7 separate regions of the Homo sapiens genome follow, and all the other regions are linked to region 5. The links come from fine-mapping of genetic effects on gene expression. A gene starts in region 5. Each other region holds a variant in brackets. All regions are shown on one strand. Distances are between the middles of the regions.

Region 1 (4,063 bases), 190 kb before region 5:
ATTTGGCCCTCCACTCTTCCCTGAGTCCTTTGCTGCCCGGACACAGGTCCTGGCTCAAGACCCCAAGTGATGCCCCCAGAGCCTCCAAGTAGACCCCAAGGAACAAGGCCCGGGGGTGCTGGGCCCAGTTAATTACGGAGTGGCATCCTGACCCTCACTCCTTCTGAGTCGCAAAGGTGAGCGAAACGGCCTCAGCACCCACTCCCTTTCCCAAGGGCTCTGGACTCCCTTTCCTGTGATGCTGGCACACAGGATCCCCTCCAGACACATAGCAGGGGCCTCCCCAGCCTCATTCCTCAATAGACCTTGTGGTCCTGGCAGGCACTGCCCTACCAGCTTCCATCCACGGGCTGTGTGACCTTGAGCAAATCGCTTCACTTCTCTGAGTCTCCACTGACCCAAATGGGGGTCGATCAGAGAACAGGAGGAAGGATCTTGTATTCAATAGAAGATGTACACTCAGGGTCACAGTGATGAACAATTGACCACTATGCTGCCCTATGAGGGGTCATCCAGGCCACCATGGGCAGGGGTGCTCTGGGCCACCCACGCTCTCCCAGCAAAACTGGCCCCCCTGGGGATGGATGCCTTGACCTAGCCTCATTCTGACTGCTAGTCTCCAGCAAGCAATGAATAGATACATAGAAAGAAGGAAGTAGGGTGTTTGTTAGAAATTGTACTTTGTGATTGTTGTTAAAGATACTCGCTGTTTCCTTCTGCTCTTCCCAAATATACTCATCTTAGTCTTGGCACAGGTACACCTGGCCCACACAATCTCCTCCGGTGGTCCCTTTAGCCGACAGTCACTTCTTCAGTGGGGCTGGCCTGGGTCCCCATCTGATTTGGGCTTGAAGTTGGAAAGAGAGCACAGAGGGAGTCCCTAGGTTGGTTCCATCCTGGCCACCCACCTCTTGTGAGCCCTGGAGGCATGGACACTCCCAGAGTCTGGAAGGATTATTAGGGACAGGGCAGCCTCGGAGTAAAGTAGGTAGCAGGGTGGTCACTCTCTGCCCACAAGCTGGGCCTTGGGAATGGCTTCTTCTGTTCCTCCCTCGGCTTATGCCTCTGTCAGTGAGAGTTCTCGAGAAGGCAGGGCTCTTCTTTTCCTCCCTGGTGTACAGGAGCCAGGATCCAGATCCTGAGGTCTGCAGGAGCTTCAGGACACTGGAATGATCTTAACATTGTCCCTTTGCCTGTGCAGAGGTTCCAGCTGCGTCTGTGAGGTGGAGGTGGGAGGATTCCCTTCCCTGGGATTCCCCAAGGCAGAGGCTGACCAGCCATTGTCCCAGTAGAAGACAGAAAGAAGATAAATGTCAGCTAGTAATATCAAGTAAATAGTAATAATTTGCCCATAACTCGCTGGCAGAAGATAGGAAGAAGGTATCAGGCAGGCGCTCCTAGACTTTGGCACAAACTCACTCCCAGACTTTCTGTCTCTTGGTTGGTGTGAAGGCTAGAGATGTATTTGCTTTTTTAAAAAGTGTCATTAGGACAAAGGCCAGGAGGGTCTGAGATCCAGTTTTCCATGATGGGGGCCTGGGGTGCTATGGGCTCCCCTCCCCATAGTGTGCCAGGCCCTACCTCACTGATCTCCTCTTCTAGCAATTCCTCAGCACACACTCCATTCCGGCCACGCTGGCTTTGTGGATGCTGTTAGCCCTTGGCTGTGCCAAGCTCATTCCCACCTCAGGGCCTTTGCAGTTGCTGTTCCCTCTGCCTGGAACACCATCCCCCAGATCCCCACAAGCCTGACTTTCATCAGTCAAGTCTCAGCTCCAATGTCACCTCCTCCAGGAAGCTTTCTTTGACTA[C/ACTAC]CCCATGTCGTGGTGCCCTACCCTGAGTCCCGAGAACTCTGTTTCATCACATTTTTTTCTTTGCACAACTTCTCATCGTTTCTTAATGTTACTAGTTGACATTTATTGAACACTTATTTTGTGCAGGCTTCTCAACACTTTGCATGCTCATCTCACGGACATGTAATAATTTACGTATTTAAACCTTGCAACAACTTTATGAGTTAGGTACAATTATTGTCCCCTTTTCGCAGCTGGGGAAACTGAAGGAAGGAGTGTTTGTCCAGGATGGCACAGCCAGTAAACTGTGGGGTGCAGAGCCCAGGCCCCTGCCTGCTCTGCCAGGCTGCCCTCCTGGTACTTATGTTTCAGGCGTGCCTCCTCCTTGTTTGTGATCCTCCCTGGAGTCAATGAAGGGCTCCCTGAATGAATGAATGAATGAACGAATGAATGAATGAATGTGGCCTGTGATGCCTGTGGACTGGCCTGTCATGGGGCTGAGCTCCCCACCCCCAGCCTCAAGGGACAGGCACCGTTGGATGGGCCTGTGGAAGGTCAAGGGCATGTGGCCAAGCTTGGCCCGAGCAGCGCTTGCTCCTGAGAGAATGACGGTGGGAGGAATTCAGGCCAGGTCAGGTGGCCCATAAATTAGAACAGCACCCAGAGCCCTCAACCCCAAACGGGATGCCTTGCCAGGAATTGCTCCAGGGCTCTGGTTTCAGGCTAGTTTCCTGGGGTTGGGAGTGTTCTAAGGAGAACCAGGCTCACAGTCCCTGCATAGTTGGGGTCCCTGAGACCTTCCCTCATTGACTGCAGGGCCCTGAGTTGGGATGGGAGCACAGTGGCAGGGGCTCACCCCAGTGCCCACCCCTAGCTGGCCAGACATACCTGCTGCACTTTGGAGGAGGCAGCTTTTGAAGGCAGCTCTTTCCTGCCCAGCCACGCCAGACCTTGCACCCAGAGGCTTTGATGGGCCCAGGCTTGCTTCTCTCTGTCATTGACCCAAGAGCCCAGGACAGGAAGCCAGTCTTTAGTGTCCCTTCTCTGTGTCTCAGACTCCCACCTGTGAAATAAGTAAGGGGCTCTCATTTGGTCCTCTTCAGAGCCAGGCCTGATCCTCCCCTCTGCCCCACACCAGGCACACCTACCTGGGGGATCTCAGGAAAGACTCCAGACTTTGAATTCTCTCCCAGGGAGGGGACAGCCAGGCCCAGGTCTCAGAGAGCCTGAGTTCCCCTCACACTCGGCCATGACTGTCCCTGAGATTTGAAGCGGGTGCTTGCCCTCTAGGGGCCTCAATGTGCTCATCTGTAAAATGAAATCACAGTGGTATGGGCCTCATGGGGTTATCGAAAGAATGGGCTGAGGTCATGTGGGCCATGGGCTTGGTACAGTGCCTGAGACATAATGAATACTCAGTTCCCTGGTGGTCTAGTGGTTAGAAAAATAATAATAATAATAATAATAATAATAATAATAATAGTAAATACTCAGTAAGTTGTTATGTATTAGTATTGAGTTTATTTTGAAAACAAGTAATAATGAGACCTGATCCCTCTCCTCAAAGACTTCATAGCACTTATGGGAAAGAAATCTAGAACTGAATTTATTAAGTGTTGTTTGAGACACCAATAAATGGAGGGAGAGATATATTCTGGCTGATGAGATCAGGGATGACTTCCTGGAAGAGGTGGCAACTGAGCTGGGTCTTGAAGGATGGACTGGGGTTCAGAGTGAGACCAAGAACATGCCACTCAGGGGCAGAGATAACTGGCAGGGAAGTTGGGGCACACAGAGACAGAAAGGGCACAGCTTCAGAGGCCTGGAGTATAAGGCTGGAGGGTCAATGAGCTCTAACCAGGCTTTGAATACATCGTTCAGACATTGGACTTTGTTCTGTAAGTAGCAGGGAGTCACTGAAGGTTTCTGAGGAGAGGAGTAGCTATAGATCAGATTGTTTCTTCCCTAAGGAGAGGCCCGGGACAGCTGGATGCACCAGGTGGTGAGGGAAGCTGGCTGAAGGCAGACGTCATTGTTTGCCTCCACTGATCCCTGTTCAGGGCAGCTGCCCACCCACAGGGCCCCAGCCACCACCATGCCGAGCACCAGGTGTGAGGTCTGGACTGAGGTCATTCTCCCCGCTGGTCCTTGCCTGCCTCTTGCTCGCCATGGGGTTGCATGACAGGCTGGCACCCACGACTCCCCCCCCCAGACTCCTCTAAAGCCCCAAGAGCAGGATGTCACACCCAGGCTGCCAGGAGCTGGGGTCACTC
Region 2 (4,055 bases), 400 kb after region 5:
AAGCGATGCTCCTGTCTCAGCCTCCCAAGTAGCTGGGAGTACAGGAGTGCACCACCACGCCCAGCTAATTTTTTGTATTTTTAGTAGAGATGGGGTTTCGCCATGTTGGCCAGGCTGGTCTCAAACTCCTGACCTCAGGTGATCTGCCTGCCTTGGCCTCCCAAAGTGCTGGGATTACAGGCATGAGCCACCGTGCCCAGCCTTGCTTGCTTTTTTAAATCTTACTTTTTGTTTTGGCTGCTCAACTTCTGCCTTATATCTTGCTTCTTGCTCTCCCACCCCATCACCTTGCTTCTTTCTCTGCTTTCACTCACTCTGCCTTTTATCCAACTTCCAATTCCCTCTGCTGTTCTCCTGCATCATAATGGCAGTTAGTGAGGGGAGGGTTTTGAGGTGGCATGTCCAACCTCCTAGCCTGCCACATCCAGAAACTGCTTTCGAAGTTTCTCTGTGGTCCTGTCAGCCAAGAGGGAGTCCATTCAGTTGGTTGTAGGGCCTAGGGCTTATTTTTATTTCTCAAACCTGACAAGATAAAGCTGGATTAATGCAGATTCTCTGCAGGTGTAAATTTCCCCTACAAAAGACAGTTTTGCAGAGTTCCTTCTGTTTGCTGGCTCTCTGACAGCCATCTTAAAATATGCCAAAGAAATATATTCTGGGGTAAAATACTTTGATTTTCTTCATCTATCAACAGCTTCACCATGCTGACAGCCTCCAATCCAAGCATACCTGAAGCTTTTCTTTGTTTTTTTGTTTGTTTGTTTGTTTGTGTGTTTGTTTGAGACACAGTCTCGCTCTGTCACCCAGGCTAGAGTGCAGTGGTGTAATCTTGGCTCACTGCAAGATTCGCCTCCCAGGTTCATGCCATTCTCCTGCCTCAGCCTCCAGAGTAGCTGGGACTACTGGTGCCTGCCACCACACCTGGCTAATTGTTTGTAAATTTTTTAGTAGAGATGGGGTTTCACCATGTTAGTCAGGATGGTTTGATCTCCTGACCTCGTGACCACCCACCTGGGCCTCCCGAAGTGCTGAGATTATGTGTGTGAGCCACCGTGCCCGGCCCCTGAAGCCTTTCTTTTTAAAAAGCTTTCCCACCTTTATGACTGCCTTCAAGTCTCTGCCAAAACACAAATAACAGTGACTGACTCCCTGCTATAGCAAGCTCAGAATAAATAGCTTTTGCTTTTTTTCATTTGGTTGGTCTTTGTTTATTTGCAGAAGCTTCAATGTAGAGTTGACAAGGACTCTAGTCTTTGACCAAACCTTAGTAGTTTCCTCTGAGCCCTTTTCTCTGTTATTTCTTTGCCTGCCAAGTCCAGTTTTAGGAAAGAATACTGTTGAGTCTAGTTTAGCAAGAGTCCTCGCAACCACCTTTGATAGCTAATCAAGTTCCTCTTAGTAATTTTCCATCCACTGACTTTCTTATCTTGCCAATTGGCTATAATCTTCAACTCCTCCTGCTGTATTCGAGGTTGAGCCCAGTTCTCTGCTGGTCTCTCTTGCCTACTGTAGTAAATACAATAACATCTGTCTCATGTTTTTAAGAAGTGTCCAGTGCAGCCCCTCAGAAACTACCTTTGCAAAATTATGACAACAAGAGAAAGCTGACATGGCTGACTCCATCTTGGTTCTAGCCTCACAGGCTTGCTGTCTTTGCTCATTCCTGTGCAATTTCTCCCAAGCTATCTTTGGGAAAAATAGAGTTTATAGTTTAAATCAGGACTCCCCAATCCCCAGGGCCATAAGACAGGTACTGGTCCATGGCCTGTTAGGAA[C/T]CCAGCTGAACAGCAGGAGGTGAGCTGCAGGCTTTCGAGCATTACCACCTGAGCTCTGCCTCTTGTCAGATCAGCATGAGCATTAGCTGCTCGTCAGAGCTCGGACCCTATTGGGAACTGCTCATGTGAGTGATCCAGATTGCGCACTCCTTATGAGACTGTAACTGATGCCTGATGACCTGAGGTGGAACAGTTTCATCTGGAAACCATCCACCACCCCCTTCCATGGAAAAATTGTCTTCCATGAAACCAGTCCCTGGTGACAAAAAGGTTGAGGACAGCCAAAAAGGCTGCTTTAAATGATAACCTTCCCCAAAACTAAATTACCCCTGTAAAATGAATGAAAGGCCACCAAGTTAGAAGGATGAAAGGGGCCTGATTTCTACTAAGATGTATGCCTCGTTAAATAATTACCAGCCATTATTCCAGAAGTCACAAGATTGGCAGCTTCCCCAATTACTGCTGTGAAGAACATCACTATTGTAGAACCTAAGATTGGCCTCTTGAGATGTCTTTTCAGGCTTTTGCATTTCTGACTGCTGGAAGGCACCATCTGGCCCGAAAATCAACCAGTCCCTTAGCCCCCACCCAGAAGCTGACTCCATGCAGGAGGGCCATTTTCCACACCCCTGTGATTTCATCCCCAACAATCAGCACCACGCAAGCCCTAGCCCCCTCCCCACCAAACTATCTTTGAAAAACCCCTTACCTCCAAGCCTTCAGTGAGATTGCTTTGAGTAATAACTCTGTCTCCCACATGTCGTGGCTGGCCTGTGTCAATGAAACTCTTTCCTGCAGTGCCATGGTCTCCATGAATTGAATTTTTGTGTACATTGGTCAGGAAGAACCCATCAGGTGGTTACATCTGCAGGATGGTGCCAGTTCTTTCCACAAAGGCTGGTCAGATACCCAGAAAGCATTTCTCCACTACTACCTGGACAATGTGTCTCCCTGTCAATCTCCAGGGAATGGGGCCTGGATCAAGTATTTAGTATTCAGCAGTTACTACACTGTCACCCAATCCCTCATTTTCAATATTTTGCCATGCTTCCAGTGGCCTAACTGGCCACCATGCCACAGAATCTTTACTTTACGGTCTCCAAAGAGAACTCTCCACTCGATGTTTTGTGATTTGAGCAATGGAATAGAATCTGATACTGGTGGGCTGGGGGAGGTCCCTGGACACTGGTGGGATCTCGACCCCAGCCGTGGTGTCCAGGCTCTTGACACCATCGCGAGAACAAAGTCAAAGATGAGTCAGCAGATAGTGAAAGAAGAGATTTATTGCAAAGCAAAAAGTACACTCTCAAGAAAGGGGAGCTTGGGCATACCCAAGAGAGAATAATGGGTTCTGGGGTTTCATCTTGATGGGTTTCTTTAACCAAGGAGTGGAATGTTCACGAAAATTCCTGGGTAAAGGTGGAGATTTCTTGGAACTGTGGTGCCATTTTTACATCAAACACTGGTCTCAGAACTGTCATGGCACTGGCGGGTGTGTGATTTAGTATGTTAATGAGCATATAATGAGGGCCTAGGTAAAACCTCCATCCAATCCAGCACCACGTTGGGTCCACTCAGCCTTAGCCAGCTTGGTCCACACCCTGGTTTTTCAGCGTCTTAACAGCCCACAGCCTCAAGTCATGTAAATCTGCTGCCTAGAATTTGTTATCCTGTGACCACCCTGTAGTATTCCTGTCTGAAATCTACTTGTAAATATTCAAATGGTCTTTCACTTGGGCATTCCAACTTTGCTTACTTCACAGTGTTTCCTGCGTAATATATAAGAAAAGATGATCCAGACATTTGTTAAACATCTCAAATAAGATGTAGCCCAGGTATTTGTGTCAAATTTGGATTATTTTGGTTTCGTCTTTGCAGAATATAAAAAACTAACATGAGGTAAGCACTAAGGTGTGGAGATGGCTGTGCAAGAGATGACAAAGTCCAGCACCACGCTTGAGAGTGTCCAATCATCTCTTCTGGGACAGCATATTTTTCTACAATACGGATTTTTGAAAAAAAAACAACATCAAAAAAAAAAAACCTACAAGATTCATGAAACTGGACAACTGTCTTTATAACATTACCAGTGATAAAACCAGTAAGGAAGGCTGGTTTGCAGTCATCTGAGCAGCCTCTTTACTTTCATAAATATGGCTTCTCTCTGATATTAAACGGCTTCCAAATGCAAGCGGAATGCTGCATCACAAGGATAAGGATGTGAAGAGAACCGGTTTCTTTTGTAATCCGAAACATTCTAGTCTGCGAATTAAAAGCCAT
Region 3 (4,063 bases), 170 kb before region 5:
ACACCAGCTGCACCAGACAGGAGGCCCATAAATGCCTCAGTCAGCCTTCCTGTCTCTGTGCCTCTATTGAACTTGCCTTTGATGCCCACATTCATCCTCTGTGGACATCAGTCTTGAGATTCACATTTGCCAGGTCACAGCTGCCCCAGTGGGTGGCGGCTACTCTTTACCCTCATCCTGGGGCTATCTCTCCAGTGTCCCATGGGGTCTATACAAGCATAGAGAAGAGGGCACTGACCTTTCTTCCTGCCACTGTAGGCATCCTGGACCTGGGGCCCCGAGGGCCAGGGGGCCATCCTGCTGGTGAACTGTGACCGAGAGACACCCTGGTTGCCCAAGGAGGACTGCCGTGATGAGAAGGTCTACAGCAAGGAAGGTGCCAGCAGGCCCTGCACTTGGGGGGCAGGATGAGAGGAGTGAAAAGATTCATGCCCAGTCCTGGGCTGGGCTGAGGGTGAGGCAGGTGTGGACTCAGGCCTCCTGGGGATGGTGGACACAAATTCCCACTCTTGCTTAAAGCCAAAGGCAAAACCATAGGAAATAGACAAGGGCCGGGCGTGGTGGCTCACACCTGTAATCCTAGCATTTTGGGAGGCCAAGGCAGGCAGATCATGAGGTGAGGAGTTCAAGACCAGCCTAACCAATATGGTGAAACCCCATCTCTACTAAAAATACAAAAATTGGCTGAGCGTGGTGGCATGCACCTGTAATCCCAACTACTCAGGAGGCTGAGGCAGGAGAATCACTTGAACCCAGGAGGCAGAGATTGCAGTGAGCCAAGATCATGCCACTGCACTCCAGCCTGGGCAACAGAGCAAGACTCTGTCTCAAGAAAAAAAAAGAAGAAGAAGAAGAAGAAGAATAAAAAGAAAATAGACCAGAAGGAAATTCCCAAAAGGTTAATCATCTCTAGTGTTGGAAATGACAACTGGTTTTTATTCTGTTTTATGCTTTGCTTTTTTCTTTTTCTTTTTTTTTCTTTTTTTTTTTTTTTGAGACAAGGCCTTGTTCTATTGCCCAAGCTGGAGTGCAGTGGCATGATCATAGCTCACTACAGCCTCAACCCCCTGGGTTCAAGCCATCCTCCTGCCTCAGCCTCCTGAGTAGCCAGGATTACAGGCACATGCCACCATGCGTGGCTAATTTTTTTTATTTTTGTAAAGATGGGGTCTTGCTATGTTGCTCAGGCTGGTGTTTGTCTCCTGGCCTTAAGTGATCCACCCACCTCAACCTCCCAAAGCACTGGGATTACAGGTGTGAGCCACAGCACCCAGCCTCTTTATGCTTTTCTATAGTTTCCATAATACACATCCATGGGGATTTTTTCCTGATTATCAAAGTAAAAGGCATTGGGAAGCTGAGGCTCCAGCAACAGATAGATCTCTTCATTCTCACCTTCTGTCCCTCAGATCTCAAGGACATGTCCCAGATGATCCTGCGGACCAAAGGCCCCGACCGCCTCCCCGCCGGATACGAGATAGTTCTGTACATTTCCATGTCAGACTCAGACAAAGTGGGCGTGTTCTACGTGGAGAGTGAGTGATCCCAGCCCAGTCCAGCCTAGACCTTTCTAGCCACCTACCCTCCTCCCCTTAGCAGTTGTGGCCTTCACAGGTGCAGGTGCCTGGGGAAGACCTGGATTGGTCTCTGAGTGATTGTAACATGGCAATGCTGTTGTCCCGTGAAGTTGAAAGACTCCATGGGGACACATCGCTCCTCCTCTCAAAGGAGTCTGGAGTGACATGGGTCTATGTAGAACCCAGAGGCCCTTCCTCCCTACGAATCAGGGGAGGAAGGGCATTTGGGCACTTCTTTTCTGGAGTCATGTCACCTTCAGGATACCTGAGGCAGGGCAGGCACCACCTCCAGGTATTTTCTGCCATCTCTGACTTTCAAAGACCCCCTAAAGATGCAGTGGGCACCCTTGAAGAGTTGACCCCTTGCTCCTCTCGATGGCAACAGATGTCCTGGGCCCCCACTGTGTAGGGCACGGGCTCCTGCCCTGGAGCTAGTCCTCGTAGCTGCCGGCTCTGCCTCACCCTGTCTGTGGATATGTGTTGAGCCCTTTGGTGCCAGGCCCTGTTCTCAGCTTTGAGATCTCTGCAGTAAACACAACAATCACACCCTGCCCTCAAGGAGCCGCCAGTCTAGCAAGAGAGACATAATCAGTACCACAATTGGAGGAAATGAAATAGAATAAGTGAGGAGAATGGCAGGGCAGAGGCACCACTAGATGGGTGCCTCTGAAAAGGCCTCTCTGAGGAGGTGACATCTGAGCTGAGACTCAGATGAACAATAAGAAGGAACCAGCCACTCGTGAGCTGAGGGAAGAGTGTTCTAAGCAGAGGCAACAGCATCTGCAAAGCCTGGAGGAGGAGACCAGTTTAGAGTGTGGGAAGAGCAGATGGAAGCCCAGAGCAGGGCTGGGAGTCAAGGTCAGTCAGCTCGGCCAGGGGCCAGAGCATGCAGACTGGGTTTG[G/A]ATTTTCTTCTGAGTGCAATGGAATGCCATTAGAGGGTTTTATGCAAGGGACTGTCATAATAATGATGTATGTGTTTTAAAAACTCCCTCAGCAAAATAGTCGGCATTGCAATTTGCCATGGTACAAGGCGGGTCGTGGGGTGGCGGGAGGAGGCTTCTGCATGCCCAGCTGCCTAGGGGGGCCAGGATCTCTGGCCCAGCCCCGAACCCACCTCTAGACAGGCCTACTAGATCCAGGGCATTCACCATGAGGTGAGTAGGGACCCTGGACCCTCACATCAGGGAGATATTTAGCCAGGATGGCAGTGGCCAGCAGCCACCCAATACCAGTCTTCCTTCTGATCCACCCTGGGCTCCAAGCAGTGACCTCACACAGGTTGGAATGTGCCCAGAGTCAGGCTGGCTCCGCTGCCGCAGGGGGCCGGAGATGTTGATGTTGACACCATCCAGGCCAGGGTTGTCATGGAGGATGGGATCACCAGTGGGAGCAGGAGGGATGCAAGCAGGACCTCAACCTCGGCCTCTTGACCTTGGTGTCGTGACACGAGACCTGTTGCAAATAATGATGTCTGGACATTATCTAGAAGTTTCTTCTTTTTGCTAAAGGGAGTGGACTGGTCTGGTTCCATAATCTCATCCCTCCTCATCACTTGCCATCTGAGATGGGTCCTGAGCAGACAAGAAAAAAGAGGAACTACTACCACAAGGGCTTTGAGAACGTCCCTTGGAGCCTCTTATTTGGGCTGCCCATCCTGTGGGGAGCAGCCACGACTGAGACAGTGGGGACCCAGAAGAGACAGTTTCCCAATAATGCTGACACTGGGTCACTGGGTGAAAACTCTTAGACACACACACACACACACACACACACACACACACACAAGCAAAGGACGACAGATAATTGACCAGGAGCACAGTCTCTTTTTCTTCCAGGCAAACACTTTGGAGTTATGTCAAATTCCAGGCACCCCTGTGGATGAGCGAATGTCAGGTGTCCTGGTAGGGTCAGACCAGCTCTCCCCAAGGCCAGGGGGCTGGGTTGGAGACTGAAGGACCCCTATAGGGAGTGCTGGAGTCAGGGAGCTACAATTCTGGGTCCAGGCAAGTCTTCTCACCAGCCCCAGCCTTGGGGTGCTCATCTCTGACGTGGCATGGGAGTAGTAAGAGTTCCGACTGTCCCGGGTGTCCCGGATCGTGGTGGGGATCTAATGAGGAAGGTGTGTCAGGCACTGAGTGCAGTAGCTGGCCTTTGGAAAGCTCTCCATAAATGGCAATTATGGCTTTTGTTGAGATTATGATGATGACTGTTAGTTACAATGATTGGAGTGGACAGAAGGCTTCAGTGCTCCTAGGAAGACCTGGTAACGGCCTTAGCCTCAAATTCTGCCCAAAACACCAAGCACTGGGGCCTTACCTCTTTATACAAGGAAATGGTAATCCAGTTTGCCCAGGACTTTCCTTATTTTAGCACTGAGGGCTCCTCATGCCAGGAAACCCCTCAGTCCTAGGGAAACCAAATCAGCTGGTCACACTATCAAGGAGTCTCGCTGGGAAGTGGAATCATTCCAAAGTAGCTAGAAAGGT
Region 4 (4,063 bases), 33 kb before region 5:
ACGTAATTCCAGAAAGGGGGAGCTATTGGCCCGGGGCACACAGCAAGCCCCAGGCTAAGGGGTGGCACAGGGAGAGTACCTGACGCCGGAGCTCCTGCAGCTCCCGCCGAGCCTCCAGCCGTGAGCGCTCCACCTCCTGCAGCCCAGTTCGCAGCTCCCCGGCCTCCTTGCCCACAGCTGTCCGTGCCTCCTCTAGGAGTGCCAGCTTCTGCTCCTTGTCCTCATTGGCAAGCTTCAGGCTGGAGAGGGCAGAGGTCAGGGGCTGCCCTGGGTCCTGGGAGTAGTCAGTGGCTCTACACAAAAGCCGTCTCCTCCAATTTCTGGAGTGGATCAGGCACTGCCTGCCCATGTGGCCTCTCTGAAGAGCTAAGCCCTGAGCCCTGCAGGGCTGGGGCCCAGGCCCTCGGCTGGGAGGGGTAGACCAGTGACTCCAGGAGGGGACCTGGTTTCCAGGGTGATGACGGTGGGTGGGTCTGAGTCTGGACCCAAAGCTGCCCACTGCCCCTCTGCCCCTTTCCCCAATCAACAGGGAGGAAACCTTCCTAAAATCACCCAGGTGCCAGGCTCTGCTTAGGAGACAGAGGATCCGTATCTGGGCAATTTCCCCAGAACGTTGGGGGTGAAGTTAGGTTTCAGGGATGGGATCCCATGAGGACTCAGGACTGGTCCTCCTGCGACACCCCACCTGATGCGCTCGCTCTCTGCCTTCTTCACAGCAGACCGAAGCTCCTCATTGGAACGCCGCAGGGCCTCGCGCTCCTTGGCACCCTCGCCCAGGCTGCGTCGCAGCTCGCCTGCCTCCTGGCGCTGCACCTCCCGGCCCTCCTGGCTCTCACGCAGCTTGCGCTGGGCCTCCAGCAGCTCCCGCCGCAGCCCGTCACGGGCATCCTCCAGCAGACGCAGCTGGGTCCGAAGCTCTTCTGCCTGTGAGCACAGCAGGTGTCCCCAGGGCAGCGGTCAGGGACCCCCCCGTCAAGCTGGGTCTTGTACCCCAGATCCCTGGACCCAGGGAGCCTGCCCCATCCCTCTGCAGTGCTCAGACCGCAGGCTGTGAGTTATCATTTGAGCAAGGCGTGCTGTAATCAGTAATGTTTTGACCTGAAGTCACCATCAATCAGGACTGTCCTGAGCACAACACCAAGAGGGCAGAGACCCCACTCACCCCTCCTTGAGGCCAAATCCCACCTGTACACAACAGGTGCTTCGTAGTGCTTGCTGCCTCCTTTCTAAGTTGCTATTCATTGGTCCTCAAATGCAGGGAGGAATCTTACACTCTTCTGGGGCCCTGGGGAACTAGGCCCCCAGGCACACAGTGCCATTTAGGGTATGCTGCTTGGAAGAGGGGGGCGGCTGCTCACCTCGCGAAGACAGGAGTCCCGCTGCTTGCCCAGGTCTCGGGCCTGCTCTTGCAGCCTCCTCACCTCCTGGGCGTGGGCCGCAGCAGCCTCCTCCCGCTGGGCCCGTAGGTCCCGCAGCTCAGACGTCAGAGCGTTCACGGTGCTCTGGGACAGAGGGGCTCCTCAGACTTGGTCCTGCTGTGTCCCCCAGCCCCGGGCTGCTCCCAACCCGCTCAGTGCACTGTCCACTTTTAGCTCTAAACACGGCCCCTCCCGCTGGCCTGCCGGACCCTCTGCCAACCCCTGGATGCATAGTGAGTGCTGCCCGTGTAGCCAGCCTCTCCCTCACGCCAAAAGGATTCATCAGGGCAGGGCTGAGCCACCTCCCTCAGATGGGGGCTCCCAAAAGAAGGGCTAAACCTCCTTTCCCACAGCCTGGAAGCTTCTCCAGGACAGGGCCATGCCGCCCCGTGGTGGGGGCTCCTCAGCCAGGGATGTGCCTCTCTATGAGACAGAGGCCCAGCTGCCCAGCCTGCCCTACCCGGTCCTGCTCCTGCCGGCTCTGGGCATCTCGTTTCTGCCGCTCCATCTCCAGGGAGATGGTGGCCAGGCTGTGCCGTGTACCCATCAACTTCTCTGACAGCGCCGTCTTCTCAGACTCCTTCAGAGACAAGGCCTGGGCAGAGGCAGGGGACAAAGGGCTTGGGGGATGGGCTGGTCCTGGGGGCATGCTCAGGCTTCTTGCTGCCTAGGAAATGTGCCCACTGGGGGCTTAGAGGCCTGAGTGTGCCACTGCAGGTGGACCCAGGGCAGACATGCAGCCCTGGAAAAGGGCACAACGGCAGTCACAAGAATCCCGGACGTGGATACCACTCATAGAGCTCACTA[A/G]CCCGCCACAGCACCCTGACTGCAGAGTCTTTCTTTCTACCCATCTTACAGATGAGGAAACTGAGGCTCAAGGAGGTAAAGTGACTCGCCCAGGTACACAGCTGGTGAGGAGAGGAGATGGGCACAGTCTGCCCTGTCTCCGTTACATTATAGGAAAGTTAGGGATTTGTTATTTGGGGGGACACGTCAGCTGATGCCTGTGGGCATCGTGGGGACTGCTCAGAAGGCAGCCATGAGGATCCATGCCCAGCGTGGGGTGGGACGAGGCATGGGAGAATATGGAACAGCTTTCCTGGTGTCACGACTGTCACTGTCACTCAGTAAGTGCTCACTGTGTGCCAGGCATGGAGCACAGCAAAGCCTCACGAACCCCCTTCTAATCCTCCCCTCCTGCAGGTAAGGAAACTGAGGCCCCCAAGAGGGCAGTGGCCTGCCCCAGGGCTCCTAGCTGCCAAGTGGCAGAGCAGGGCCCGGCCCCAGAACTGGAGCAGCTCAGAGAGCAGCAGAGGCCATGCCAGGGCTCACGAACCTGCTGCTTCTCACTCTCTGCTAGGAGGAGGCCCTCGTCGCGCTCCTGCTGCAGGGCAGCAATCTCCTCACTCAGCTCTTCCTTCTCAGCCTCCAGCCGGGCCAGCAGCTCCTCCTGCTCACGCTGCAGCTGACTCTGCAGCTGGGCCCGCTCGGCCTCCAGCTCCCGCCATGCTGCCTCCTAGGGGGCCAGGACCGGATGCCTGTGACACACCAGGAGGGGGCCCAGGCAGACCCCCCAAAACATCAGGGCAGCAAGAGCCATCTGGCCCCCATACCCTCAGAGATGGAGGGTGACCAGGTAAATACAAGGGAGTGATAAGGGCTATGACGGGGACACGCCAGGGCCGTGAAAGTGCCAAGGAGCAGCAGTGGGCTGGCCTGGGGGTCCGAACATGGTCCCCTGCGGAGGGACAAGTAACTGTCAGCCAGGTAAGGAGAGAAAAGACCACCCCAGGCCAAGAACACAGCCCCTGGAAAGGCCTAGAGGATGCAGGGTGCAGAGGGGAACGGGACATGGTGAGTCACAGGGCCAGAGCCCCAGGCAGGGGTGGGGCCAGGACAGGCCGTGTGGGCCATGGGGATTCTAAGGACAGTGAGGGGAGTGGGAGAGAGGACTCGAGCCAAGGTGACAAGGAGCAATCTGATTTTTAGCTTAGGGGATGTTCCGACAGCTGTGGAAGAGGGATTGGGGTTGGGATGGAGGGGAGTTAGGACTGGCTGTGAGGAATGAAGGGGGTCAGGGGTTGCCAGAGGAGCTGGAGAGAACACAGATTTGGGGACATTAATGAGGCCAAGCCAGGCAATGCAAAGGGCAAGAAGAGCAAGGGGGAGGTCACAGGAGTTCAGATCCCTGGGGACTGGACAGGCGGGCAGGCAGAGCCCACAGGCAAATAGCAGCCCACCTGGGGAGCCTGAGGGCAGGTGCCTGCCTCAGCACTTGCCCCTAGCAACTCTGTGAGAAGCAGACAGAGCTGCCACTTCTTTTTTTTTTTTTTTAGACGGAGTCTTGCTCTGTCACCCAGGCTGGAGTGCAGTGGCGAGATTTTGGCTCACTGCAACCTCTGCCTCCCAGGTTGAAGCGATTCTTCTGCCTTACCCTCCCAAGTATCTGGGACTACAGGCGCGTGCCACCACGCCCAGCTAATTTTTTGTGATTTTTAGTAGAGATGGGGTTTCACTGTGTTAGCCAGGATGGTCTCGATCTTCCGACCTGGTGATCTGCCCACCTCGGCCTCCCAAAGTGCTGGATTACAGGCATGAGTCAGCACGACCGGCCAAACCGCCCCTTCTTTAAGATCTTCACCGTA
Region 5 (4,063 bases):
GTAACCAGATCCTCCCAGAAAAGCATCAAAGCCTCGCTCAAGAGAAGGGCTTCATGGAACTTTAAAGGCTAGGGCTCAGGAGAGCATAGCATAGGTCAGGTTGTGAGGAGAAGGAGAAAGAGAGAAGAGGGAAAGAAAGGCCAGCGGGAGAAGCGGGGTTGTCCACCTCCTGTGGGTTCCCCTTCTACCCTGGGAGAACTGGACATACACCCCAGGTGTCAGGGTGAGGGCCCTCTGAGTCTCTCCCTGTCTGGGGCTCCAGGGCGCCAACATCCCTGGCGCTCCCAAGGAGGGGGCCCGTCTGTAGCTTGGGAGTTGAACACAGACAATGGTTAGAGCACCAAAACGCCACACGCCAGCACACCAGCTGCAACTGAGTGTGCCTTTCCCAGATCCTCAAGCCACATAACTACACCGTGTGCGCCACCCACTGAGAGGAGCAGGGACCATCCGCCTTCCTGCCCACGTGGGAAACGGATGGACGGCGCCATCCACTCAGACTTCCGCAAAACCCTGGTCTGAGCTGAGCTGCCCTCTTCCTGTATCTTGGGTTCAGCCAGCTCACACCTTCCCCGGGTGGGAATACGGGATTTGGGGTTCACATCTCTGCAGCAGGCTACAGGCAAGCACGCAGGAGATGCTCGGCCCTTCCTTCTAGTTGCACCACATGCGGAATAAGTCTGGACAAATTACATCCCTGAGCCTCTGTTTCCTCATCTGTAAAATGGGTTCTTCTGTCATAAAGCTGTGCCTGCCCCACAGTGAGTTACAGTCATGATCATCATGGTGACTGCTCAGGAAAGGGACATGAGAAGAGGTAAAATGTGGGTGGTGTTTGTGGAGGGGAGCGGATGGGGGTGGCACCTGGGCTCTCAGGCTGGGAGAGGTTGCGGGTGACAATCTCCCTGATAAGGGCAGGCAGGCTGGTGATCTGAGCGTCCTGGGCCAGGTCCCGCGCGCCCAAGCCTTTCTCCTGGCACAGGACGCTGCTCTCCAGTGTCTGTGGGAAAAGCGAGAGGGTCTTCAGGGGACATGGGACCCGGGGCTCCCTGGCCTCGTGGGGAGAGCCACAGAATCCTACTGCCCAAGATACAGGTCCCCAGGAGCCCCCTCAAGATGGAGTGAAGCCTGGGAGTTAGAATCCAAAAAATCCCCATGCAAAGAGCCTCTTGTGTGCTCACTGCCCCAGGAAGAAGGCCCAGGGCCAGAGATGAGAACCAAACCCTACGGGTAACTCCCAAACCCCACTGGAGGCAGTCCAGTGTTGGGGGCCCCAATCCGGTTCCGACCCTAGATGGATGAGGATCTGGCTATGCCAGAGGTCCCCCAAGCCCTAAAATCTGGCAGTAGAGACCCCCTTCTCCCAACCCAGGGCACTGGGATGAGGGAGCCACAGCAGGTGCACCCTGTGTGTACCTCTGCCCCCCATCTTGCCAGGAACTGCAAGCGGGGGGCCCCTGTATACCCCACCACCACCACACCTCTCCCACCCCTTGATCCCCAAGACGCACACACCTCTCACCACTCCTGTTAAGTCCACGCTGCCCCGCCCCAGACAGGGTGGGCACAGCCCCCAGGACCCACCTGGATAACCGTCTCTAGTGTCAGCTCCACCTCCTGTGCCCCCGCCAGCCCCAAGCTCATGGGGGGGAGGCTGTGGGCATGCCTCCAGCCCCCTTCTCCAGGACCCCAAGACTAGCTCAGTCAGCACGCGCCACAGCCAGGATGCTGTGCTGAGCACCAGGCAGATTAAGCTTAAATCCGGCGGCGCCCCCATGTGACCACCGCGGTGGGAGGAGCAGGATGTGGGCTGAGGAGGGAGGGGATGGGAAAGGACAGGAGAGGAGGGAAGCAGAGGCAGGGAGCCAAAGGAAGAGGAAGGATGAAGAGAGGGGAGGAGAAGGGAGAGAAAAGGAGGGAGGAGAGAGAAGAGGGAATGGGAGGAGGAAACAGGGGAGACACCTGGAGGTCAGGACCTCACACACTCTTCACCCTGCGCAGGTTGCTGGGTCCTAGAGCCCTCCAAGCCCAGGGGGTGGGGTCAGTAGCCATGCGGCGGGAAAGGCCAGAGTCCTAAGTATTTGTGACCATCTTTCTGGCCCAGAACGGGAGTCACATGGTTAGCTAAGAATGAGAGGATTTACAGCATGCTGGGAGTATGTTTTCCCACAACAGGTGTAGGGCAAAGAATGCAGGCTGTGAGATCACCCAGGCCAGGCTTGGCACTTAGTTGGGCATGAGCGGTCCAGCCTGGACTGATGAGCATTTATGCAACACCTGCGGCATTCCTAGGTCTGACCTAGACACAGTGGTAGAGCCTCGAACTACAAATGCCCTAGCCTTGCCCTTCAGGCACTTATTGGGAAGCTTCTGGCCCCTTCACACCCACCCCAGCCCCCACTAGCTGGGTGCACCAGGGACACTGACTTTGCCTCTCTGAGACTCAGTGTCCTCTTACGTAAGATGTGATAATATTGGTACTCATCTCTCGGAGCCGTCCGGGGATGAAACAGTATCGTGTGTGCATACCCAGCACATGACATGGTGCTGGGGGGTCACGTGGCCAACACTCAAGAAATACTCATTTCATTCATTTGAAAATCCAGAAGGTACAGTCCCAGCCAGGCGCAGGCACTCATGCCTGTAATCTCGGCATTTTGGGAGGACAAAGCGGGTGGATCACCTGAGGTCAGGAGTTCAAGATCAGCCTGACCAATATGGTGAAACCCCGTCTCTACCAAAAATACAAAAATTAGCCGGGTGTGGTGGTGCACACCTGTAATCCCAGCTACTTGGGAGGCTGAGGCAGGAGAATCGATTGAACTCAGGAGGCAGAGGTTGCAGTGAGCCAAGATCGCGCCATTGCACTCCAGCCTGGGCAACAAGAGTGGAACTTTGTCTCAAAAAAAAAAAAAAAAAAGGCACAGTCCCTATATCCCAGGGCCCTGAGACCCAGAGGTCACCCACCACCTCCCATTGTTCTTTCCCTGGGGCAAGGAGGCTATGTGCTCTAGTGCTTAGGCGCACAGCTCTGGAGTCAGTATCAGGTCTGAGGTTGCATGTGAGACTCAGCTCTGTCACTTGCAACTATGGTGTTCAAGACAGTAAGACCTTGAACAGGTTACCTCCCTGAGCCTCAGTTTTCTCATCTCTAAAAGGAGACTAAACCAGGCCAGGTGCAGTGGCTCAAGCCTCTAATTCCAGCACTTTGGGAGGCTGAGGCGGGCAGATCACTTGAGGTCAGGAGTTTGAGACCAGCCTGGCCAACATAGTGAAACCCCATCTCTACTAAAAATACAAGAATTGGCCTGTAATCCCAGCACTTTGGGATGCTGAGGCAGGCGGATCAGGAGGTCAAGAGATTAAGACCATCCTGGCCTACATGGTGAAACCCCGTCTCTATTAAAAATACAAAAATTAGCTAGGCATGGTGGTGCACACCTGTAGTCCCAGCTACCTGGGAGGCTGAGTCAGGAGAATCGCTTGAACCTGGGAGGCAGAGGTTGCAGTGAGGCGAGATCATGCCACTGCACTCCAGCCTGGCGACACAGTAAGACTCCGTCTCAAAAATATAAATAAATAAATAAATAAATATAAAAAAAATTAGCTGGGGCGTGGTGGCATGTGCATATAATCCTAGCTACTCAGGAGGCTGAGGCAGGGGAATCACTTGAACCCAGGAGGAGGAGGTTGCAGTGAGCCGAGATTGTGCCACAGCACTCCAGCCTGGGTGACAGGGCAAGAGTCTGTCTCAAAAAAATAAAATAAAATAAAATGAGACTAGACCGAGTGTGGTGATTCAGGTCTATAATCCCAGCACTTTGGGAGGCCAAAATGGGAGAATCGCTTGAGCCCAGGAGTTTGAGACCAGCCTGGGCAACATAGCGAGACTCTGTCCTACCAAAAACAACAAAAAAATGCGACTGATAGTACCTACCACACCTGGCAGGTGGTGAGCTATTAGCCAATGGGGGCCACTGTTCCTATTGTCATTAGCATCACGTGTCTGGGCTCCTGCCCTTAGAGTTGTAAGCCCTAAAAAAGGACAGGAATTGCTCACTCG
Region 6 (4,063 bases), 390 kb after region 5:
CAGGTGTACACAGCCCGGCAGAGATGCCAGCCCCCGTGGAGCTGCACCCAATAAGCCCACCTTCTTTCCCGTCGCCACCCCGGAGACGCCCATCGGGCTGAGCTGCGAATAACTAAGAGAGAGGCCAAGCCAAGTCGTGGCGTTTGTGGCAGCCCCGGACACGGGCACCAGCCAGTCAGCGGAGCCTCCTCACCTCCGTTGCCAGCGAAGGCGCTCGTTAGGCCTTGGGAAGAGGCGACCGGAGGCGATGCCCGCGAATTTGTTAGGGGGGTAAGCGGCGGGTGAGGTCCTCGAGGGCGGTCCCGTTTGCTGATTGAGCGGTAGAGGGAGGCGATGTTCGCTGACCCAACAAGGACAGCAGGTGGAGTAGGCACAGACGGAAAACTGCTGCCGGTGCCCTAAGCAGAAGGCAGGTGGAAAAATCAGCACTAGGACGTCGAAGCGATTGTACCACAGTCAAATCCCACGACGTCTACACTCTACCAAGCACTTGCGCACGCTCCCCCTTTTCCATTCAGTACTCCCAAGAGGGGTTCGGAAGAACCCCGAGTCCACTGTAAGCTCAGGGGAGAGCGGGAGCCAGGGAGGTGAAGTGCGCAGACTCGGCAGAGGCGGCGGGCAGAACCGCGCGGGGGTGAGAGGGCGCGGTGGCTGCGGGGCGGGAGCCGCTGCTGAGAGGCGGCCTGGGTTGTCTTGTGGGGTGACTGTCGGTGGAATCTTTGGTGGAGAGTGGTTTGGAAGAATGGCGAGGGGCGGCAGTGGGGAGGGTGGTGACCCTGAGCGACCGGCCAGGGCGAGGAGGCTGTGCTGTCCCTGCAAGCCATGTGCTCATTTCCACTTTACCTGGCAGGGGAGAGACCGTGGTCACGAAGGGGGTTCTCCCAGAGTGAAGCTTCTTCATCTCACTCTAGAGTTGCTGATCCCTGTGATTTCCTCCATGTGGGAAATGGTGTTTGTGGTAGAAGAGGCTGCGCTCTTTACCTGACATAACGGGGTTCAAGACTGACAACGCCTCACGCCCATCCAAAAACGTTTACATGGCTTCCTTGTCTCTTTTTTTTTTTCTGTCCTAAAGTCGCCTTATCTTCACATCCCCTCTTTTTTTTCTTCCACACTCGAGAGTGTCTCTCTCATTAAAAGCTCCACCAAATATTTGAAATATCTCAACCAGAAAGACTGCAATAAATACATTATTTCATTCGTGGAAGGTACAGACCAGCTAGATTGAGAGTTGCTTGATATTTTCTGCTAAACGGTGAGGCATAGAGCACTTGGAAGGTTTCTCTTTGGGCCACTGTTTGTGTACTCTTGGGTTTCCTTCTTTTCCCCAGACAGTATGGCGCTGTGGGGCCAGGGGTAAACCCTGCTTTCCGGCTTTCTGGCTGCAGATAAAGGCCTCAGCTGGTGCAGGAATCAAAAGCAAACCAAAAGACACGTGGGTTCGCCCCAGTGGGTCCAAGATAGAGTCTGACTGTACCAGGATTCGGATTAGAACAGAGGTTGCTGCAGGCACAACGCAGACTACTAACCACTAGAGAATCCCAAGGCGCCCCACACCTACTGCCCGTCGTTTTGCTTCCCCACCCCTCTATTATTTATTTATATATTTTTTTGAGAGACAGAATTTCGCTTTGTCGCCCAGGCTGGAGGGCAGCGGCACGATCTCGGCTCACTGCTACCTCCGCCTCTTAGGTTCAAGCGATTCTCCTGCCTCAGCCTCCTAAGTAGCTGAGACTACAAACGTGCACCACCACGCCCAGCTAATTTTTGTATTTGTGGTAGAGACGAGCTTACACCATGTTGGCCCGGCTGGTCTCGAACTCCTGACTTCAAGTGAGTGATCCACCCACCTCGGCCTCCCAAAGTGCTGGGATTACAGGCGTGAGCCACCGCCCCTGGTCCCCCGATTTTTTTTATTAATGTAAAAACATTATGCGATTTTTACTTCTTTATTCTTGGGCAGCTACAGGTTCTTGTGATTTTCTCTCACATCTTCTCCCCATTTCCTCCTCTCCGATCTGATACATGTCCCATCTTCTCTGCATCCAGCCGGTGCCCTCTGCACGGGCATCCTGGGCTGTCCCATTGTCTAGTCCTGGTCTCCCCTGCTTCTCCCTCCTCCTTTTCACGTTTTCCCTTTTGACTCCCCTGCCTCTTTCCCGCTCCCGCCCCACCGAC[C/T]CCATCTACTGAAGCCGAGTTGAGTGAAGGGAGAGCAAGCGGAACAGATGATTGCCTGAAGGCGGCGCAAAAGAACAGAAAGAGCTACCATGAGAGACGTCGGGGAGTTCAGCTTCCCTTGGGCCCTACTTGGCTCAGGCTGGGGTCGCAGATCCAGGCATTTCCAGAGGCACTGGCTTCTGAAGCAGGCGAGGGTGAACGCAGGGTGAAGGCCATTCGGCCGCCCTTCTGGCTTCAGAGTCACGCAATGCACGCGTTTCTAACGTGCAACAACACGATTAGTCGACTCAGCCTCTCCGGTTTTCTGAAGCTTTGTAGTCTGCACAGTTGTCCCGCAGAAAGCAAATGGCAACTCCTAGGGTTTAGTGATTGCTTAATCTATATAGAGATGAAAGCAAGCGATTGAGGTTGTCTCTGTGGTGCAATCGGTTAGCGCGTTCGGCTGTTAACCATAAGGTTGGTGGTTACAGACCACCCAGGGACGTGATTTTAAACGTTGGTTGTGACCAGGCGCAGTGCCTCATGCCTATTAATCCCAACGCTTTGAAAGGCTGAAGTAGGGGAAGCCTCCACTGAGCTCAGAAGTTCAAGACCAATGAGAATCCCACCTCATTTAAAAAAAAAATGCAGTTGTATCTATCTCCTCAGACCCATCAATGTATTTAAAAGTGAAAGACTGTTCCCTTGTGTCTTGTGCATCCCATGAGGACAGACAGCAGAAGGTCCCCCTCCGAGCCTCCTAGAAAATGAGATCTCTGCAGAACAAACTAGCTTGTATGTACGGGAAACAGAAAGTATTTGAAGAAACAAACTTCAAAAATTCTGCCTTGCTTTCCACAAAAATTAACCCATCACAGTCTGCCTTCAAGTGGCATCATACCTCTTCACATGACTCCTCCCCCTGCCTTTATGCTATTGTCATGCATTTTACTTTACACCTGTTATAAACCTTACAATCCATCTCTATTACTTTTGTTTCAAGAGTCAGATGTGTTTTTGTTTGTTTGTTTGTTTGTTTGTTTGTTTGTTTTTGCTTTTTTGTTGCTGGTGGTGGTGTTTTTAAGACGAGTCTTACTCTATCGGACAGGCTGGAGTGCAGTGGCACAGTCTTGGCTCACTGCAACCTCTGCTTTCCGGGTTCGAGCGATTCTCCTGACTCAGACTCCTGAGTAGCAGAGATTACAGGCTTGCGCCACCATATATGACTAATTTTTGAATTTTTCGTAGAGAGGAAGGTTCACCATATTGGCCAGGCTGGTCTCGAACTCCTGACCTCAAGTGATCCGCCTTCCTTGGCCTCCCAAAGTGCCGGGATTCCAGGCGTGAGCCATCGTGCCCAGCTAAACAGTCAGATGTTAAAATTATATATTTGCCTATGTAGATGTCATTTCTAGTGTCTTTTTTTTTTTCATCCACATTTTCATCTGGTGTCAGTTTCCTTCTGCCTGGAGGACTCCTTTAACTTGTCTATTAGGTGTCTTAAACTTGCACTATCATTCACTGATGCTCTGTTCATTTAAAAAAAAAAACTTGTTGGCCGGGTGCGGTGGCTCACGCCTGTAATCCCAGCACTTTGGGAGGCCGAGGTGGGTAGATCAGGAGGTCAGGAGATAGAGACCATCCTGGCTAACACGGTGAAACCCCGTCTCTACTAAAAATACAAAAAAATTAGCTGGCTGTGGTGGCGGGCGCCTGTAGTCCCAGCTACTCAGGAGGCTGAGGCGGAAGAATGGTGTGAACCCAGGAGGCGGAGCTTGGAACCTGTCAAAAGGCATTCTTAGCCTTAAAAGAAAAGCCAGGGACATCCCTTGCCTCAGGACTCTCGAACTTAGAAAAACCTTTCACCCTCTATGTGGATGAATAACAAGGGACAGCTTCGAATGTT
Region 7 (4,063 bases), 220 kb after region 5:
GAGAAGGCCGATCTCCTGGCAGTTCTCCCCCTGGGGTGCAGCTCAAGGCCCCCTCCTCGTCGATCTCTCCACCCTCCTAATCAGGGAGGAGCCAGGGGAGGGAGTTTCCCAGGAACCTGGGTCCTCTGCCTGGCGGGGCTGGGCTTGAATCTTAACCCGGAGGAACCTGAAAGACCCTCTAGCGATGGGGAAGAGACCCCAGAGAGGGGTGTGGCTTGGCCAAGATCCCACGGCAAAGGCATGGCTGAGTAGGACCCTGGCCTGGAGAGCAACGCATCTTGGGGTGCAGTTGCCTTCATGGCCTCCCTGCCTCCCCTTCAGAGCATGGAGCACTGCGTGCTCTCCCGGGATCCATCCGTGGAGCTGGAGGCGAAGCAGCCGGATTCAGGCATGTCCTCACCCAACACCACGGTGTCGGTCCAGCCTCTGAACTTTGACCTCAGCTCGCCCACCAGCACCCTCTCCAACTACGACTCCTGCTCCTCCAGCCACTCCAGCATCAAGGGCCAGCACCCTCCACGTGGTGAGTGTGCCCAGGAGGAAGAGGGGGAGGGAGAGCAGACTGAAGCCAGACTGCTGGGCTGTGAGGGTTGGCCTTGGGCCAGCCTGCCACAGCCAATATCGGAGACTACTCTTATCACTTGCTTTTAAACATGGGGAGGCGACACCCTTTCTGGTGAGAGACAGATGTCACTCATACTTGTGTGTGCTCATCACAGACATACATGTACATCCACATGTACTCTCCCCACCCACAAAATCCACGTGTGCCACCCACCATTCATTATTCTTAGCTACTCACACACAAAAGCACACACTTGTACATGTGTACACACAGCATACAGATATGAACACACATACAGAGCCATGCTAATATCTGCACACACCCACCTTACACACAAGCACACAATGCTCTATTTCCATACTACAGATATGCACACACACACACACCATGTCCACAGAGCAATGCACACACATTCATCAATACAAAGAAGCATGTGCACAAATGCGTACACACTCAAACATACACAAATTCACAATCGCCTCGGCAGACTGCAGGCTTGTGTGTACACACACCCTGACCGTGCCCTGAGCATGGGCGTCCATCCACTTGCAATGCCTGCTTCACGCCACCAGATGGTGGCCTCCAGACCTGGCAGGGTGCCCTGCAAAGATTGGATGTGGCCATCTGTACTCCCAAGGAGTAGACCCTCCCCTTCCAGGTGACCCTGCCCTCTAGACACACCAAAGCCTCCAGTGCTTCCCCTCCAAACCGGAGTGCCTGGTCTTCCCCCAATAAGTGCTGGGCTGGGGCAGGGCAGGGCCAGGGAGAGGAAGCCCAGCAACGCCAGGGGCCACAACAGGTGTACCAAGTGGTGCCCGGAGCCCACCTTGGCCCTCGGCAAGTTGTTTCCAGGTGGTGGAGAGTCTCATTCTTGGGGGAAAGGCTGTCTGCATGCTTCCAAATCTGGCCCTTCCTTCTGCCTCCCCAGGGCTTTCCAGCACTAGAGCTGCAGACATACAGAGCTACATGGACATGCTGAACCCAGAGCTGGGCCTGCCTTGGGGCACGATTGGGAAGCCCATACCCCCACCACCCCCACCCAGCTTCCCCCCGCCACCCCCGCCCCCAGGCACCCAACTGCCCCCACCCCCACCTAGCTACCCATCTCCCAAGCCTCCTGTGGGACCACAGGCAGCTG[A/G]CATCTACATGCAGACCAAGAACAAACTCCGCCACGTGGAGACAGAGGCCCTCAAGAAGGAGGTAGTGAGCCCTCACCCACTGCCTGCCTCCCAGCAGGGGTACTGGGCTGATGGGGGCCAGTCAGGCCAAAGGCCTGGCCTCACTAGTGGGCACAGGGTGGGGGTCCCTGGGTCCATGGCATATTCAAGAGTCAAAGCTCCTGGCGAGTCCCACGAGGGGTCAGGGCTGGACACTGGACTGGGAGGAGAGTAAGAGCAGGTCACTGCCCTCCATGGGAGCTGGGGGGTGAAGGACGCAGGTCCAGACAGCTGTTCCTCACCAGGAACTGGGCCTGTGCCACCTCTTGCACAGGAGTGGCCGGGTTGTCATGGAGTTGACAGAGAATGCATGGAGACTGCCCCTCCCCAAGCATGCCCCCCCACCCCCACAGCCCCAGGCTCAGTCGGAGAGTGTCACCCAAGGGAGGTGGCTGCCAGGTGGAAGGTGCCAGTGGCATGGCTGTAGAGGTAAGGGCTGGAAGGAGGGAGGGAGGAAGGTGAGCAGGCACTAGCAGGGCTGGGCGCCCACCGGCAGTAGGGGCTGGGAGGAAGTGAAGCTGTGGCTGGTTCCAGTTTAGGGCTTGAGCTCCTGGGGGAAAGGGCCAGGCCTGAGCTGGGAGCCCTGGAGGGAAGCGAGCCTGTGTGGAGAGGATGAGGGCAGGGTGGGTAGGTGAAGTGTGAGGTGCCTAGGGATGTCTGGGGCCTGCAGGCGCCTGGCTGAGGCTCTGGAGCAGGGATTGGGGCAGAGGTCTGGTCTGAGCAATTGCGGGTATCCTCGGCAGGGTGCCCTGGGGAACACTGGCGTTCTGGCCACAGGAACAGAGCAAGGATGGTCTAAGAGGTGAGGGGACAGCCTGAGGTCACAGGTGGCCAGATGTGGTGTGGCAGCTCCCTGGGGTCCTGCTGGAGCCTGGGACCTTGCAGTTCTCTCTTAAGCCCAAGGCAAAGCCACCCCAGGGCCAATTCATACAAGGTGACTCAGGTCACAAGGCCAGTGGGCAAGGGAGGCATGGGAGGGACACCAAACCTGCAGGCCAGCTCCAGTAGCTGCCCTCTTCACGCCACCTTAGACCAAGCTCCCACAGTGGCTTTCCCCTTTCATCTCTGGGAGGCAGAGGGGGCCGGGCGGGTAGGGCTGCAGGGGCCCTGGAATCGTTGAGCTCCCGGCGCAGACTGTGGGCCCCGCCCAAATCCACAGGACAGGTGGCCCAGCCAGTGCCCCCTCTCCACCGCTGAGCCCAAGTGCCAGGTCTGTGAGGTCACCTCCTGGCTGTGCGAGCCCCCTCCCGGCTGTGTGCGTCCCTCCCGGCTGTGTGCGTGCTGGGCCGCAGACGCCAGGGCCCGGGCCGGGAAGCTCTACAAAGGGCTCTTTGTGTCGCCGCGGCGCCTCCCGCGCGGGTGCCTGACCGCAGGTGGGAGCAGGGTCGTGGCGTCGGAGCCTCCGGGCTGCAGGGGGCGCGGAGCCGGCGGGCTGGCCCAGAAAACGAATCCTGCGGTGTCGCGTTTCCTGCAACGTGAGCCAGGTCGGGCGGGGTGAAGGGTCTGAGGCCACCGCAGGGACGCATGGGCTGGAGAGTGGGGCAGGGGACAGCCCCCACCCGGTCACTCAGTCTTTGGCCCGGCCGCCTCACTCTCCCTCACTGAGCTGGGCCTAGTTGGGGGCAGCTGCGACGGGGCGGGAAGCCGCGCTGTCACCCGACCCCGCCTTACGGCCCCTGAAATCCGAGGCTTGAGCGCGGGTGTCGGTGTCGCTTTCGTGGATGGCGATGGTTTCCAGATGCAGGAGGGAAACGGTGGGGACGCGACCCGGAGCCGGCAGCCAAATATGAGAGGCCCCCTCTGCCCACGGTCAGCCCTCTCTCCTCTCGGGCGGGGATGAAGGTGGGGGCTCAGCTCCCAGCTTAGGGAGAGGCGCAGGGGGCGGGGTCACATCTGGCCCGGGGCGGGTGCAGAGCCGCGGCCAGGTGTGGCAGAGTAGTTGGCGCCCCCGTGGCATCCGCGACGGCTGGGGGGGGTTCGGCCTGGGATTGGCGGGCCCCGGGTGATGTCAGGCCGTCGGAGCCCATAGGCTGGCCGTGCGCGGGCGTCTGTAACCTGAGAGGAAGTATCACGTAAAGCAGGTGTCGGGTCCTGCCGCCCCCGCCGCCAGGTGCACAGCAGGACCACCAGCACCGTGGCAGGTTGGAGCAGCCCCTAGACGGACAAGCGGGGTCCGGGGCAAGCCGGAGCCTCGGAGAGCACAGGCTCTGGAGGGGGCTCCCTCCGGCCCGGGACCCCCGAAAGACAGGGCTCCGCGGAGCCCTGGGGACCCGCAGTCCTT

Evidence for each region. PIP is the estimated chance that this variant, and not a neighbour inherited with it, causes the effect.
Region 1: its variant is fine-mapped to the expression of CROCC in whole blood (INTERVAL, PIP above 0.99).
Region 2: its variant is fine-mapped to the expression of CROCC in esophagus muscle (GTEx, PIP above 0.99). The same link has a PIP of 0.9 or more in fibroblasts.
Region 3: its variant is fine-mapped to the expression of CROCC in whole blood (INTERVAL, PIP above 0.99).
Region 4: its variant is fine-mapped to the expression of CROCC in whole blood (INTERVAL, PIP above 0.99).
Region 6: its variant is fine-mapped to the expression of CROCC in tibial artery (GTEx, PIP above 0.99). The same link has a PIP of 0.9 or more in subcutaneous fat.
Region 7: its variant is fine-mapped to the expression of CROCC in pituitary (GTEx, PIP above 0.99).

What each region holds. Positions count from the first base shown.
Region 1 is chr1:17,112,461-17,116,523 of GRCh38, reverse strand. All of the region lies in intron 1 of PADI2 (peptidyl arginine deiminase 2), which reads left to right. LOC124903861 (a long non-coding RNA gene) reads right to left here. Exons shown (of 3, transcript XR_007065506.1): 2 at 2,939-3,098; 3 at 2,679-2,853. Among named protein-coding and RNA genes, the nearest start is that of PADI2, 5.0 kb to the left of the region's middle. The variant C/ACTAC (reference allele first, on the strand shown) is at 1,812.
Region 2 is chr1:16,514,740-16,518,794 of GRCh38, reverse strand. No RefSeq gene overlaps it. Among named protein-coding and RNA genes, the nearest start is that of RNU1-1, 2.5 kb to the right of the region's middle. RefSeq lists enhancers at 4,002-4,055, 3,860-4,055. The variant C/T (reference allele first, on the strand shown) is at 1,776.
Region 3 is chr1:17,089,880-17,093,942 of GRCh38, reverse strand. PADI2 (peptidyl arginine deiminase 2) reads left to right here. Exons shown (of 16, transcript NM_007365.3): 5 at 259-376; 6 at 1,410-1,535. Among named protein-coding and RNA genes, the nearest start is that of PADI2, 28 kb to the left of the region's middle. The variant G/A (reference allele first, on the strand shown) is at 2,480.
Region 4 is chr1:16,952,173-16,956,235 of GRCh38, reverse strand. It overlaps CROCC (ciliary rootlet coiled-coil, rootletin), which reads right to left. Exons shown (of 37, transcript NM_014675.5): 21 at 2,755-2,934; 22 at 1,879-2,013; 23 at 1,359-1,502; 24 at 686-924; 25 at 80-239. Among named protein-coding and RNA genes, the nearest start is that of MFAP2, 26 kb to the left of the region's middle. The variant A/G (reference allele first, on the strand shown) is at 2,226.
Region 5 is chr1:16,919,600-16,923,662 of GRCh38, reverse strand. CROCC (ciliary rootlet coiled-coil, rootletin) reads right to left here and starts at 1,732. Exons shown (of 37, transcript NM_014675.5): 1 at 1,585-1,732; 2 at 865-1,000. The coding sequence starts at 1,644. RefSeq lists enhancers at 2-773, 774-1,545, 1,546-2,317, 2,318-3,090.
Region 6 is chr1:16,530,997-16,535,059 of GRCh38, reverse strand. It overlaps LINC01783 (long intergenic non-protein coding RNA 1783), which reads left to right. Exons shown (of 2, transcript NR_135764.1): 1 at 1-634; 2 at 851-1,169. It also overlaps the pseudogene RNU1-6P. Among named protein-coding and RNA genes, the nearest start is that of TRE-TTC4-1, 2.3 kb to the left of the region's middle. RefSeq lists enhancers at 133-182, 1-437, 438-1,195, 1,755-2,280, 2,281-2,806. The variant C/T (reference allele first, on the strand shown) is at 2,179.
Region 7 is chr1:16,700,403-16,704,465 of GRCh38, reverse strand. It overlaps LOC124903858 (a long non-coding RNA gene), which reads right to left. Exons shown (of 3, transcript XR_007065500.1): 2 at 2,771-3,837; 3 at 1-1,511. It also overlaps the pseudogene ESPNP. Among named protein-coding and RNA genes, the nearest start is that of TRG-CCC4-1, 24 kb to the right of the region's middle. RefSeq lists an enhancer at 2,783-3,468. The variant A/G (reference allele first, on the strand shown) is at 1,704.